Linked DNA regions of Homo sapiens: regions 2 and 3 are each linked to region 1. Evidence: fine-mapped expression QTL. A gene starts in region 1. Each other region holds a variant in brackets. All regions are shown on one strand. Distances are from middle to middle.

Region 1 (4,240 bases):
CGATGTTTCTTCATGTGGCTCCTTTGACAACACAGTCTCTTACTCAGCTAATGGAAATGTCCCTTGAAAAAAATCAAGGGATTCTTTTCCATGGCTCTGTAGGGTGCTGTTTTCCTGATGTTGGTATTTTTTAGAGAAGTATAACTCCAAAATATGGAAATACTGGAAAAGTGTTCCTGGGCCTGCTCATATTCCTCACTAATGAATTTTTCCGGGTATAAGAGCATCTTTAAGCATGCAGAACATTTTATGGGTATGGACTTAGGATCCTGAGGCTAGGCTGATAGACCAGAATGAGTATGCATGTATAACCTGTTTTTTTGTGGTCAAGGGTTGTGCCAGCAGTGTGCTTGTCCTGTATGCCATCGGAAGCTGGGAACAGTGTGATGCAGCAGAACCAGACAATCAGTCACTTTTAGCATGGATTATTTTAATTGACTTGCTTTTTAGGGCAAGTAGACACAATTAAAGATCATTCTATCTAGTCATTAATCAAATATGTATTGAATGTATATTGTGCATGGAAATGTCTATATGTGGATGCCTTCCAAATTCTTATCTCCAGCCTACACCCCTCCCCGGAACTCCAGTTTCTATCTCCACAGCCTATTCAACTTGAACGTTTAATGGACTTGCCAAAGACTTCATGCCTGACCTTTCCCTCCAGAGTTGCCCTTCCCACAGCCGTCTCCATCTCAGTTAATGTTCACTCTGTCTTTCAAGTGCTCAGAAGAAAATATGCAAAGGTGTCTACCATCTTTCTTTCATACCCCATACCCAATCTATCATAAATCCTACTGATTCTAAATGTACTGTGGAATCCTGCATGGGATTCTGGAACAGAAAAGGGGCATTTGGGGAAAAAAAAAACCCAGCAACAATAAAGTATTGAGTTTAGTTAATAATAACGTTCACCATGGTTCATTAATTGTGACAAGTATACCATACCAACGTAAGATGTTAAAAACAGAGGATTCGGGGTGCAGGGCAAGGGGAACTCTGAACTACCTTTGCACCTTTTCTGTAGATGTAAAACTACTCTAAAAGGAAAAGTTTATTACAAAAAAATAAGCTAAGGAGCAGATTCTCCTGGCCTCTGGCTCACTCAAGCCTGTGGTTGGTTTGCTGGAGCCAACGAGATAGGAAGTCTGCTTTTGCGTGGTGGTGGTCCGGGTGGAGGATGTGGTTGGATCAGCAGCAGCCCACACACATCTTGCCTCTGGCAGGGCATTTGTTGCCTTATCAGTACTTCTACACAATTTAATTATACTAACAAAATTGGTAACCTCAAACCAGCTTAGTCTTTGTATAATACTTTTGTCAGATAATTTATCTCCACAAATTTATAGTTCCACTTCATTACTTTTGCTGAAGAACAAAGCTCTCCAATCTGAAAAATAACAAGCGTTTTGTGTTTTAAAAAAGATTTTGCTGTAATTCATTAATACTACATAAAATGGAAAAATATGTATTTTTATTTCACATGGAATGCATCGATCTGAATTAAAAATAAGGTTTTTTTTTTAAAAGAAGCAGAAGAGCAGCAGAGGCTGGTGTTAGAATGGGGCATAGAGGGGCTAACACAGGCTCCAAATAAGAGGTGACAATTGGCCAGGCCCTGAAAAATTGCAGGGTTTTCAAGACTGCAAAGTCCAGCCTCTGGGCAATCAAAGTTTTATGCCACTTCAGTGAATCTAGGGATGCACTACTGTGAGAGTCGGGCAGGTGGGTTGAAATTCCCCTTTCTTGGTCTGTGCAGAAAACTACGGATGAAGTCCTAGTGTTGCTTAAGGAGAATTTATGAAAAATTTATTCCTGTTTCCTGGATGCCTGTGCCTTTGACCTTTCCCTAGAGCTAGAAATGGTTGGAGACTTTGCAAACATCTTTAAGAACTGAGAAAAATAAAACAAACTTGCTAACTGCTTTCAGAAGATCTTCTATATTGCAGTTGGATATGCTCAAAGCGTAAGATGGGCAAACAGAGGTGGCTGTGGGGTTGCCACACCTGGCATTTTCCCTACTGGGGGAAATTTAATGAGCACTTAAATAATCCTGAGTCTGAAAGGGGCAGAAGGTCCAGGCAGATGATTGCCGAGGACAAATCTAGCTTTGTAAATCCGAGAGTATTGACACAATGATACGAGGGAAAGGTGAAGGTGATATTTCATCCAGTGTTCCCGGTTCATCCTCTCCTTACCTGACCTCTGAAATGGAGCCATTGGCCTTGAAAAGCCTGGTGTCTAAAATTAATATTCTTCCCCATCTGACTAAGAAGGCAACAGCTGAGCAACGTGAGATCAAGAGCCATATTAATTTAAACAGGGGCTGAAAGTGGCATTTGAGAGAGAAGATACTTCCTCTCGTAGTGGACACTTGTCTTTTCAGAAGATTTATACGACTGAGAGTCAAAACTTTTACCAGAGACTTTCATAGTCAGTTTGAATTCTGCAAAATTTCTCTTTATCTTCTGGAATGTATGCTCTAGACTTGGAGTGGCTCAAGCTCTTCGATGTGATCCTATCAATGGTAATTATCTTTGTTTATTGTTATAACCTCTCAAATCTCCTCCCCTTTTTTCTAAGTTACCTTCAATAACAAATTGTACCAAACTTCAGGTAGAGCTTAATGTTTAATATTTCTTTGCAAAATTATTGTATCTTAATCCTAAGCTTTTGTTTTAATACATTAATTTTGTGTGGCTTCCTGATCCAACTTGAGTTTCATCTGCAATTAACCATAGTATTTTAGTCGTAGTTTGCCTTAGAAATAGCCATGCATTTGTTTCCTTATTTTAATAATTTTTTCAGGGCAATTTGAAAGAATGCTAAGAATGATCTGTAATATATCTGTAGAGCTCTGGTTGATAGTATTAATATTTGCATTTTTATTTGTTTGAATGTAAGCTCTTTATGTGGATAAGTATAATTTGTTAGAGCAGTGAATTTTAAACACTTTGGAACTCAAGAGTATCATTTTACTATAGGAACTGACAAAACAAAATATTAAGTTTTCTGATGAGAATCACAATACGGTTTTTAAGCGGAGAAAATGCTCGAAGAGGCGCTTTTCGGAAAATCTCCACCAGGGGGCCTCAGTTGTCAGCCATGCGGAACTAGCACAAATTCAAATGTCTCTCCCTCTCCCTGCCTCTCTATGCAATCAAGTGATGTGTACATATAGACATGCGTATATGTCTCTAGTATCAAAGCGAATTATGTATGCTGCATTACTTCATTTGCGAGGAAAGTATTTTAAGGAGAGTGAAAAGACTCTGAACTTCTCGGTACATAGCTGTTAATGCAGATGCAAGGAAAGGTATCTGGGAGTGCTGTCCACGTGAGAAGACTGTAAGGAAATAAATTTCTTTTCACAAATAAACACCACACATTTTAAGGCATAGGTAGAGAAGAGTTCTGGAAAAGGACTCATTCGGGAGCGATCCCTCTGCAGAGGGAGGCCAGGGGAAGCAGAGAGACCCCTTCTGTGATAAGCCCTTCCCACGGGGCTGCAAAACCTGCGGTTCCAATTAAACCCAAAGATACTTTATAATTTACATCCAAGCTGGCCACTTGATCTACGGCTTGTTTTGTGCAATAAGGAGCATATTTCATCACCAGTGAATCTTGACATTGCTTCTTACTGTTTGCTTTTGTAGTTTTAAAGTGAAAAAATTTTTTTTCCTTTTAAAGTTCCAATGTTGGAAACTCAATATGAATGTTAGTATTTCTTTTCCTGATTTTGGATCCTCTCTCCAGTTTAAACAGAAGGGACTTCCAAATTCTCACTGGTCATTTTCTCAAGAAGTCAAATGCATGAATACGTGATGAGAACTTTTTGTGTTTCCTTTCTTTGCAGTCAAGAGAAAGAAGCACTGAAGAGTCATAATTGTGTCCTGATTTATAAATCGGAGACAGAGGGAGACGAAAACCACACTCCAGAAAGTAGCTTAATCGGACTCACTACTAAGATGTTAAAAGTGAAGAGGCTGGAAGAATTCAACACGTGTTATAACAGCAACCAGCTGGAGAAAATGGCCTTTTTTCAGTGCAGGGAAGAGGTGGAGAAAGTGAAGTGTTTTCTGGAAAAAAATTCTGGGGACCAGGATTCAAGATCTGGACATAATGAGGTAATCATGTTCTAATTTAGTCTCCTAAAAAGTATTCATTCTATCTTATCTTTTCTAATGTCATGGAGCCGCTTGTGAGTACAATTAAGGAAAGTTTATGAATAGGCATCATT
Region 2 (4,240 bases), 32 kb before region 1:
TTCTGCAGAGCCCCTTCTGATACACAGCTCTAGGTAATTCTGAGAAGATCCCCACATGCTTTTATTATCCCCCTTTTGCGCCTACAGTCTGGATAACCACCTACGACAGACAGAAGAAATTCTCATGAGGTGAAACGAGAGGCAAACCAGGTGAGTGGTTTTCATTTTTTTTTTTAACTGAAGGACTTTTTACTACATTAAATTTTTCTTAAGCCCCCAATATATAAAAGAGATGAATATGAAGCTGCTCTGGGGGCGAACTTGCAGAGGCTTTGCTGTTCAGCTCCTTTAACCTTTCTGCTCCCTGGAACATATGGAGCATGTGCTCTGAACCCCGGAATCCCGAGAACAGTTTGAAACATGACCTCGTTGACACAGAAGGTTTCCCTCTCTAGGAGTCTAAGAGTCTACAATTGGAATTCCAAAGCCAAGCAGCATACTCAGTGGGTCCAATACACCAATGGTGAAGGAGGGACATTTATTCAAATCTACAAAGGGACAGAGCACGAGAGAGAAAAGAAGTGATTTGCAAGAAATGAGCTGATTACTTTACCTCACATTCAGGCATGCCTATAAAATGACAGCCTTGGTAGGCAGCAACCGCTTGTGTTAACGCAGACGGGTCTGCCAGACCTGCCACACACAGAGACAAAGGAGAGTTTCAGTCATGACACACACTGTCCTCCTGGCCTATGTGCAGGCGACCACAGACCACCACTGCTTGTACACTTGGTGACCAAAACAATCCCATGTAGCAAAACAGCCTGACTTAGCTCTAGTCTCTGATCCCATGAACTTATGCAAGAAATATTGAGAGTGGTTACTGTGTGGTGTTAAGAACTGTTTCCTTGTGGATAAAAACTCTGCATCTAGAAAAACATGAGTCTCTGTATAACAAACATAAGAAGTGAAGGCTATGGAGACATTCACCAGGATGGAAACACTAAAAACAAAACATCCCCTAAGACCAAAGAAGAGGAGAGCTTTCCTGATCTTTTTCTTCATATAGTGTCTAGAGTCTTCCATTTCTACCTTGGGAGCTGTCCAAAGAAAACCTTGAACACCTGACTTAAAGCAAATTTAAAAGCAGCTCATCTATTGCAATACTCTGAATAGCCACTCATGTTAGTAAAAACATTCCCGAAGAGGAAACAGAAAATGGTGACTTTATGAACATAAACATTCAAAAGCACATACACCAGGAAATAAACGACTGAGCTCAGGCATAAAGTCTTATCTTCTCCTGCCAGTCTCACATAGCCCTGAGACATTCTTCCTGCTACCCCCGCCCACCCCGCCCTGCAAAAAAAAAAAAAAAAAAAGCCACGATGTAACTGTTAGCCATTTCCCCACCCTCATGGACATAGGACTCCGGGACCCTCCCATCACACTCACCTATGTCCTCGCTGGCAAACCTGACAAGCCTCCGTGCCACGTAGAGTGGGTCCTCTCCTCCCTCGAGCATGCGAGCCAGCCAGTAGAGGGAGGCGTTCTGGTCTGAGCCCCGCATGGACTTGTGCAGGGCGGAGATGCAGTTGTAATGCTCCTCACCTGACATCACAAAGAGCACCACTCACACAGAGCTCACAGGAGGGGCGCCCAAGCCATCTTCACCTCCGCCAGCTGACTTCCAGAAAGCCTGAACGAATAAAGGCCCTGAGAAAGCCGAGGAGAGGTTTGGGCAGCTGCCTTAACCGTGCTCTGAGTGGGGTGCACCAGCTGCTGGGGCTTAATCCCAGTCCTATTCAGGGGAAGAGGCTGCTGCAGCAGAAACCTGTGGCTGTCGACATGGAGTGCACGCACACGCACAGAGGCAGGAGGGAGGAAAGGTGGTCCTCCCAGCTGGTGGATTTGCCAGAGACAAGAGTGGAGGGGGACGAGTCTTCTGTTCTGGCTCTATCCCGTGGCCCACCATCTACTGGAGGAAAAGCAACGGTGGGCCTGCTCGGAGCCAGGAGGATGTAGAGCCAAGTGGCAAGGGCAGCTGTTATAGCCCATCTGTTCCTCAGTGTCATTTCCAGCTGCCTTTCTGATATCCGAAGCCTGTGGTCATTTAAACCTCCTTCTGCCAGCCTTGGTGTGGGGACACCTGTGTGGCAGGGTCCCAGAAGGACCGACA[C/T]GTGGACTAACCAGCTTCCGCCCTGAAGTGGACGGAAGCCCACTCTCTCACCGCCTGGTCTTACTACTCCATTTTTACCCTAGATTCACATGAAATCAGTGAAATGTGCTTTAAAAAAAGGCATATTTAAGGGCAAAAAAATGACAGCTAAACAGTTCTCAGGAACTAAGCAGTGGCACCTGCATACATTTCACTATTCTCTGGCCATCGTCCCTTAGGTAAGTTCAAGGAGGGGGCACCCTCCTCACGAGAAAGCGGAGGATGGTGTTCCCGTGAGTCTCACTCCTCCCAGAGGAGCACCTGGTCTGTGCTCAGCATAAGCCCATGTCCACAATACGACTGGCGCCAGCCACAAACCCTGGCAGCTGAGCTCGCTGGTAAGATGACAGTTGGTCTTCAGGTGGAGAAGAGAGCAAGCGAAGATGCTGGCCTCCCACAGGGGAAAGACCTGCAGGACCCACGGCTCAGCCTGAGTGATTCTGGTTTCTGAGAGCCAGGGCAGATGGATGGGTCAGCCCAGCTACTGGATTTCTGAGAACAAACTGAGTGTCTCCTGTGCAGGGCTCCCCTGGTGAAGTCAGAGTGCTATGGACACTGGCCGAGAGGGTGTCCTGGATGACATCTGCATGGTTCTGGCCCACTCCCTCACCCTGCTGGCCCAGGCACTCAGGCTACGCTCTGCTCCTCTGCAGGGTGGAGGAAGGCGGGGAAGAGGGTAGCAGGTAACAGGCCTGGCTAAACTCACGGGCATGGGGGCTGGAAGAAACTACCCACACCACTTTATGTCAAATTTAAACTCCCCCTACACAGGTTAGTCATCTTTTCCCACTTTGTCAATGCCAGGGGCAATACCACCAGTATAATGGACAAGAGCACAGGCTCTGGGACCAAACAGCCTGGGCTGGACCCCCAAGCTCATGGGCCATGGGCAAGTTCCTGATCCTCACTGTGCCTCAGGTTTCTCATCTGTAAAATGGGAAAAACGAGACCACTTACCTCACAGGGCTGTATTAAATAACACACGCCTGGCACAGAGCAGGCACTGTAAAAAGATTCTTTTGCATCAGTGATAGATACTAGTATTATTCTATGCTACCTTCCATGTTTGCTTTTATTACACACTGCTTTATAACCTGAAATCTGACGACTTCTATAGAACCCCGATGTCAATGCATGGCAGAGAGTTTGCTCTCATTTAGAAATTCCTTCACTCTGATGCAGAAACATCACTGGATCCTACTAGTGGGTAACTATGAACTAGGTGGCATATACAAAAATAATCACAACTCTGGGGGTGGGTCTTTGTCTCACTGGAGTTATAAAAAGGCCCAAGAGTATAAGCTAACAGGTTTCCAGGGCAATGCTTCCACTATCCCTATTTATAGAGCAAAGCCTGTAAAAGCAGCTTTCTCCAAGATCTGAATGATATTTATGTGTCTGCGGATCCACTGTGGGGCAGACATGTTGCACTGGGGTGGGGTGTGTAAACACACTCATACTGGGAAGATGTATAGGATGTGGGGTTCTTAAGGCGCTGGCACTAGGCAGCGGCACTAGGCAGCCTCCACCACCCCCCAGCTCCAAGCTATAGACAAGGTGATCCCCACTGTGCAGAGCTCTGCAACGTGGAGCTCAGGAAGTGGGATTCCTAGGACTGAACCCCTCCAAGATCCGCTCTGTATGTGCATGGACGGGTGACCCCTCTCAGGAGCATGATGTAATGGGTGAGATCAGTAACAGCATGGCAAGGCTGGTGTGGAGGCAAATGCGGACGGGGGGAAGGACAGTCTTGGGAACCAGTAAGACCTGGATTTACGGGTCAGTTTCACCACTTGCTTTGTTATCTTAAAATGGGGGTAATATTAATAGCTATCTCCATAAAGCAATTTTGAGAATTTAAAAAATGAATACACCTATAAAATACTCAATGGCTGAGTGTTAGTGAATGCCATGTTATATGGATCTCAAGTGACAGTCTGATAAAATGTCAAAGAACAGTCCTAGTCGTTCCAATCAAAACAAGGCAAATCCTTTGGGACACCTACAAGAAGAGAGAGAGAGACCGCTGCTGCTGCACTTCAGAAACAATGGCGATCCCGGCATGGTGAGATTTTTTTAATG
Region 3 (4,240 bases), 83 kb after region 1:
TGGCCTGGTCTTAATCCTTTCTTCTGATAGGTATGTTTCTGGGCCTGAGGTTTTTGCATGTCTTTTTGATTGTACATATTATTGTAAGCTGCCTTGAATTTTTTGTGGAATAAGATGGGGTAGAAATGAATCAGTACCTCATAGTAAAGGCCACACATCAGTGCTAGGAAAACACTTGGCCTTCGGAGGAAGGGACGCTTACATGTGCCCTGTCACTTATTTAGAAATCCACAAAAAGTGAACAGGAAGGCTTGTGCATTCCATTTACAAAGACCATTCTTCTTTGTTAAAAACAGCAAGGACATGAAAGTCTCAATAAGGTAGGAGAGAGTTGTTTCTTGTGAGGACAACCTGGAGCAAGAAAGGACCCTCGTGCCCCCAGGCCTAGGTTATGGCACTCAGCGAGGTGCCCCAGTCCTGCACCGTCAGTTCCTGGATCCACAGACAACCAGGCTGTGTCCACTCCTTCTCTCCCTCGCCTTCACCCTCACCCCCAGAAGCAGTTTTGTCCCTAGCGACCACAAACCCCGAGGGTTTGCCACAAACCACCTTCCCACCATAAGGACCGGAGCCACTCTGGAGGCCTGGTGGGAATGAATTCACTGGGTGCCAGGGTTGCATTCCAAGGCGGGCCTGCTGCCAGGGTCTGGTGGGGGAGGAATGAGGAGGAAATGGTGATGGGAGGGGGTAGAGTCCTTCCACACAGACATGGGTGCCTCGAACCCAATGTGATGGAAGACCACAGCAGCCTACGAAGCGATGGCTGTGCAGAGGACGCAGACAGCAGCATTTGGGCTGGCCACGCTGGGGCAGCTGGACACAGCCTCTGCTGGAACTGCTTGAGGAGGGCTGCTGACAGCCATGGAGCTGGCTGCCTTCCTTTCCTGCACTCTTCAGCCCCATTTGGCCTCAGAAATTCACCTGAGTCACACTACAGGCCAAGGAAGAATCATTTCAGATACACACAATCTGGATGCTTCCTAGTTTGCTTTCTGTTTTGTTTTTGTTTTTTTTTTAATTAGAGACAGGGTCTTGCTGTGTTACCCAGGCTGGAGTGCAGTGTCATCAGCATAGCTCACTGCAGCCTCAAACTCCTGGACTCAAGTGATCCTCCTACCTCAGCCTCCTGAGTAGCTGGGAGAAAAGGCTTTCACCACCACGCCTGGCTAATTTTTAAATTTGTAGAGATGGGGGTCTCACTATGTTGCCCAGGCTGGCCTTGAACTCCTGAGCTCAAGTGATCCTCCTGCCTCTGCCTCCCAAAGCACTGAGATTACAGGAATAAGCCACCATTCCCTGCCTACCTTCTTACTTAAAAAAATAAATAAATAAATAAAACTTAACATAAGATTTTAACTCTGGGAGCAGCCTCATTTGAGAAGTTAGGAAAAAAAAGATTATTCTTCACGATAATATTCCCTGCCAGGATGAGATGGGTTTATGGCAGGATGTATTATGATGGAAACCAAATTTGAGATAATATTGATTTTAAAAATCTGGTGGCTGAAGATTATTCCTGTTGTAAAAGAAAGAGTTCCAGGCCGATAAATAAGGCATAATTCACAATGTCAACTGAGGCATATATGTCTCCTACAATTTGTTAGAGGAAACATTCCCAAAATCAACCTGGTGGCATTTTGTTTCTGGTTACCTCTGTTATATCTTTTGCCAACTTATGGGATATAAATTTAGGGTACTCCTCAGAGCCACAGGAATGATGGCAGGTAGCCGTGTGCGGGCCCCAGGTCAGACGTGGTCATAAAGCACATGGAAACCTCCCCACACCTGAGGCCACATTCTCACTTTGATGCTGGGATCAAGCTGACCAGATGGACGGAGTGGCTGTACTTCAGACGAAACAAAGAGGCCTTGTCCTTCAATATTGCAAATAGTACTAAAATATCTTGCACACATGTCCCCATGTAACAAACCTGCACATGTACCCCTTGAACCTAAAATAAAAGTTGGAAAGAAAAAAAAAATGTCTTGCACAAACTGAAAAATAAAAAGCCCAACTCTGGTTGGTGGTGGAATCCATCAAGAGGTTTCTTTTTTTTTTCCCCCGCTCATATACACACATATGTTATTAAAAAAAATCATCTGTGGTTTTCCTAAGGGGCACAACCAACTAATTATAATTTTAAAAACCCTGCTGAATTAACAAGATTCATATTTTGTTTGCTTTGCAGGAAAACTGCTGTGGTTGCTGCTGCTTCGAGAAAATTTTTTGAAAAATCAGCAGTTCTGATGC[C/G]TTGACCCCTGTGATGACCTGGTAGTCTTAGCAGGGGGAGCCCTCGACCCTGAATGTGAACTTGAACTGGAGTGCCTCTGCTGCGCTCAGAGGAACACCCAGCGCTGCGGTCTGGTCTCAGGGCGCAAACACATCCCTGCACCCGGTGGTGGTGATGTTGGGAAGATGTTTCCCTGCCATCTTGAGATTTTTTACTTTTTTAAAAAAATTTTTTGATCTTAGTCACTGGGGCAGGGGGTGCATTATGTCTGCCATTTCTCAAATGACTACAGCTGTGACACTTAAGATTGATTGGAGATTTTAAAACTGGAGGATGCATTTAGAGGGAGAAAGCTACTTCCAGCCATTAGACTATGCCTTTGGAAGGGGCAATTAGATGGCCAGAAAGAATTCTGACTCCCATGCACCCTTGGAGACTTAGTTTCACAGACTCTGTCATTTTGATTTGGTCTGTGGTCACGTGACTACAATGGATAAATAATTTGTTTGCTGGAACAGAAGCCGTCTTTGAATTCTCCAACAAGAGGCATCAGCCACTGTGTCTTTCATTTATTCTGAATTGTCCCCAGCGTGCGTTTTCTTCCATGTAGCTGATTCTGTTTTTCACATCTATACTCCCTGCACCCTTCTGACTGACAGTTCATCCCCACAAAACACATTGGTTTTGAGAGGTGATGCAAAAAGTATCTGTTTATGGTTGGACTTTGAAATTCTGACCTTTGAAATAATGTCAACAGTCACAACAGGTTTCCTCAAGCCCCATTTGTCAACTAAAAGAGACGGATCTGCACCTCCTGGAGCAAGATAGCACTGAGCTTTCAACATTGAAGTGACTTGGGAAATAACATTCAAGCTTCTGGGTAAACACATACAAACAGTGGCAAAGACCAAGTACAGTCTCTCGCCTGTGCTGTCTCATGGGACTCAATGGTGGTGAAGAAATCTCAATCGGACACCAGAGGTGGGGGCAACTCTGCAAGCTCACCTGCTGGACGTGAGAATGTTGGAACGTTCCAGTTGGAAGGTTCCTATGCCTAGCCTGTGTGCCATTTCATGGCAGATATGTAAGAAAGGAAATGGCCCTACTGTAGACAGCTTATGGGGCCCAGAAAGGCACTGGGCTTTAAAGAGCGAAATGAGTGTGTCATTTCCACATGAAGGAGAGGCAAGGAAAAGCCCCACAAAATTCCTGTTACCCGCTGAACTCCAAGCTCACCAACCAGATTCATGAGCTTTCTCACATTTTCCATTTCCAAATAACTGTTGTGTTGAATCAGCTGTGTTAATGCCTTTATTCTTTGTTTTTTTTTTTTAGACGGAGTCTCGCTCTGTCACGAGGCTGGAGTGCAGTGGCCCCATCTCGGCTCACTGCAACCTCCGCCTCCCAGGTTCAAGCGATTCTCCTGCAGCCTCCCGAGTAGCTGGGATTACAGGCGCACGCCACCACGCACGGCTGATTTTTGCATTTTTAGTAGAGATGGGGTTTCTCCATGTTGGCCAGAATGGTCTCAATTACTGTTGTCGCAATAGCAATGAAAGGCATAAGAATTACTTGGTGGCCTCATGAGGGATGGCAGTTTCACTTTGCATCAGCTTTCCCCCATTATCTCTCAGATCCACTTAAGGAATCCTTACAGCATGCCGTGAATGTGTGCAACATCCTTATTCTCATCTTTAAGGTAAGGAGGAAGTAGAGATAGAAGGAAATACGTGATTTGGTGAAGGCCACATGCGAATTTTGTGGTCGTGTTAGTTATAAAACTGACTCCTTTCCAGCCTTTGCTCTTACATTATGATGCGTTTCTTTTTCTCCTTTGGCCTTGCATTTATCCGAGGTTGGTTTCTTATGTTCCTGTGATGTGACTATGCTTAAGTGTTTAATTTAGTTTGCTTAAAACACACACACCACACACACACACACACACAAAACCCTGTGACTGGAGTGTTATATTACTATGCTATCTTTAGCTGATGATATTCATTGAGCCT

What was found. PIP is the estimated chance that this variant, and not a neighbour inherited with it, causes the effect.
Region 2: its variant is the best candidate, but not a certain one, in a credible set for the expression of MYLK4 in skin (TwinsUK, PIP 0.79).
Region 3: its variant is the best candidate, but not a certain one, in a credible set for the expression of MYLK4 in prefrontal cortex (BrainSeq, PIP 0.56).

Annotation. Positions count from the first base shown.
Region 1 is chr6:2,749,023-2,753,262 of GRCh38, reverse strand. MYLK4 (myosin light chain kinase family member 4) reads left to right here and starts at 2,341. Exons shown (of 13, transcript NM_001012418.5): 1 at 2,341-2,527; 2 at 3,857-4,127. The coding sequence starts at 3,969. RefSeq lists a silencer at 474-768.
Region 2 is chr6:2,780,717-2,784,956 of GRCh38, reverse strand. It overlaps WRNIP1 (WRN helicase interacting protein 1), which reads right to left. Exons shown (of 7, transcript NM_020135.3): 5 at 1,396-1,551; 6 at 554-633. Among named protein-coding and RNA genes, the nearest start is that of WRNIP1, 17 kb to the right of the region's middle. The variant C/T (reference allele first, on the strand shown) is at 2,120.
Region 3 is chr6:2,665,849-2,670,088 of GRCh38, reverse strand. MYLK4 (myosin light chain kinase family member 4) reads left to right here. Exons shown (of 13, transcript NM_001012418.5): 13 at 2,190-4,240. Among named protein-coding and RNA genes, the nearest start is that of LINC01600, 33 kb to the right of the region's middle. The variant C/G (reference allele first, on the strand shown) is at 2,252.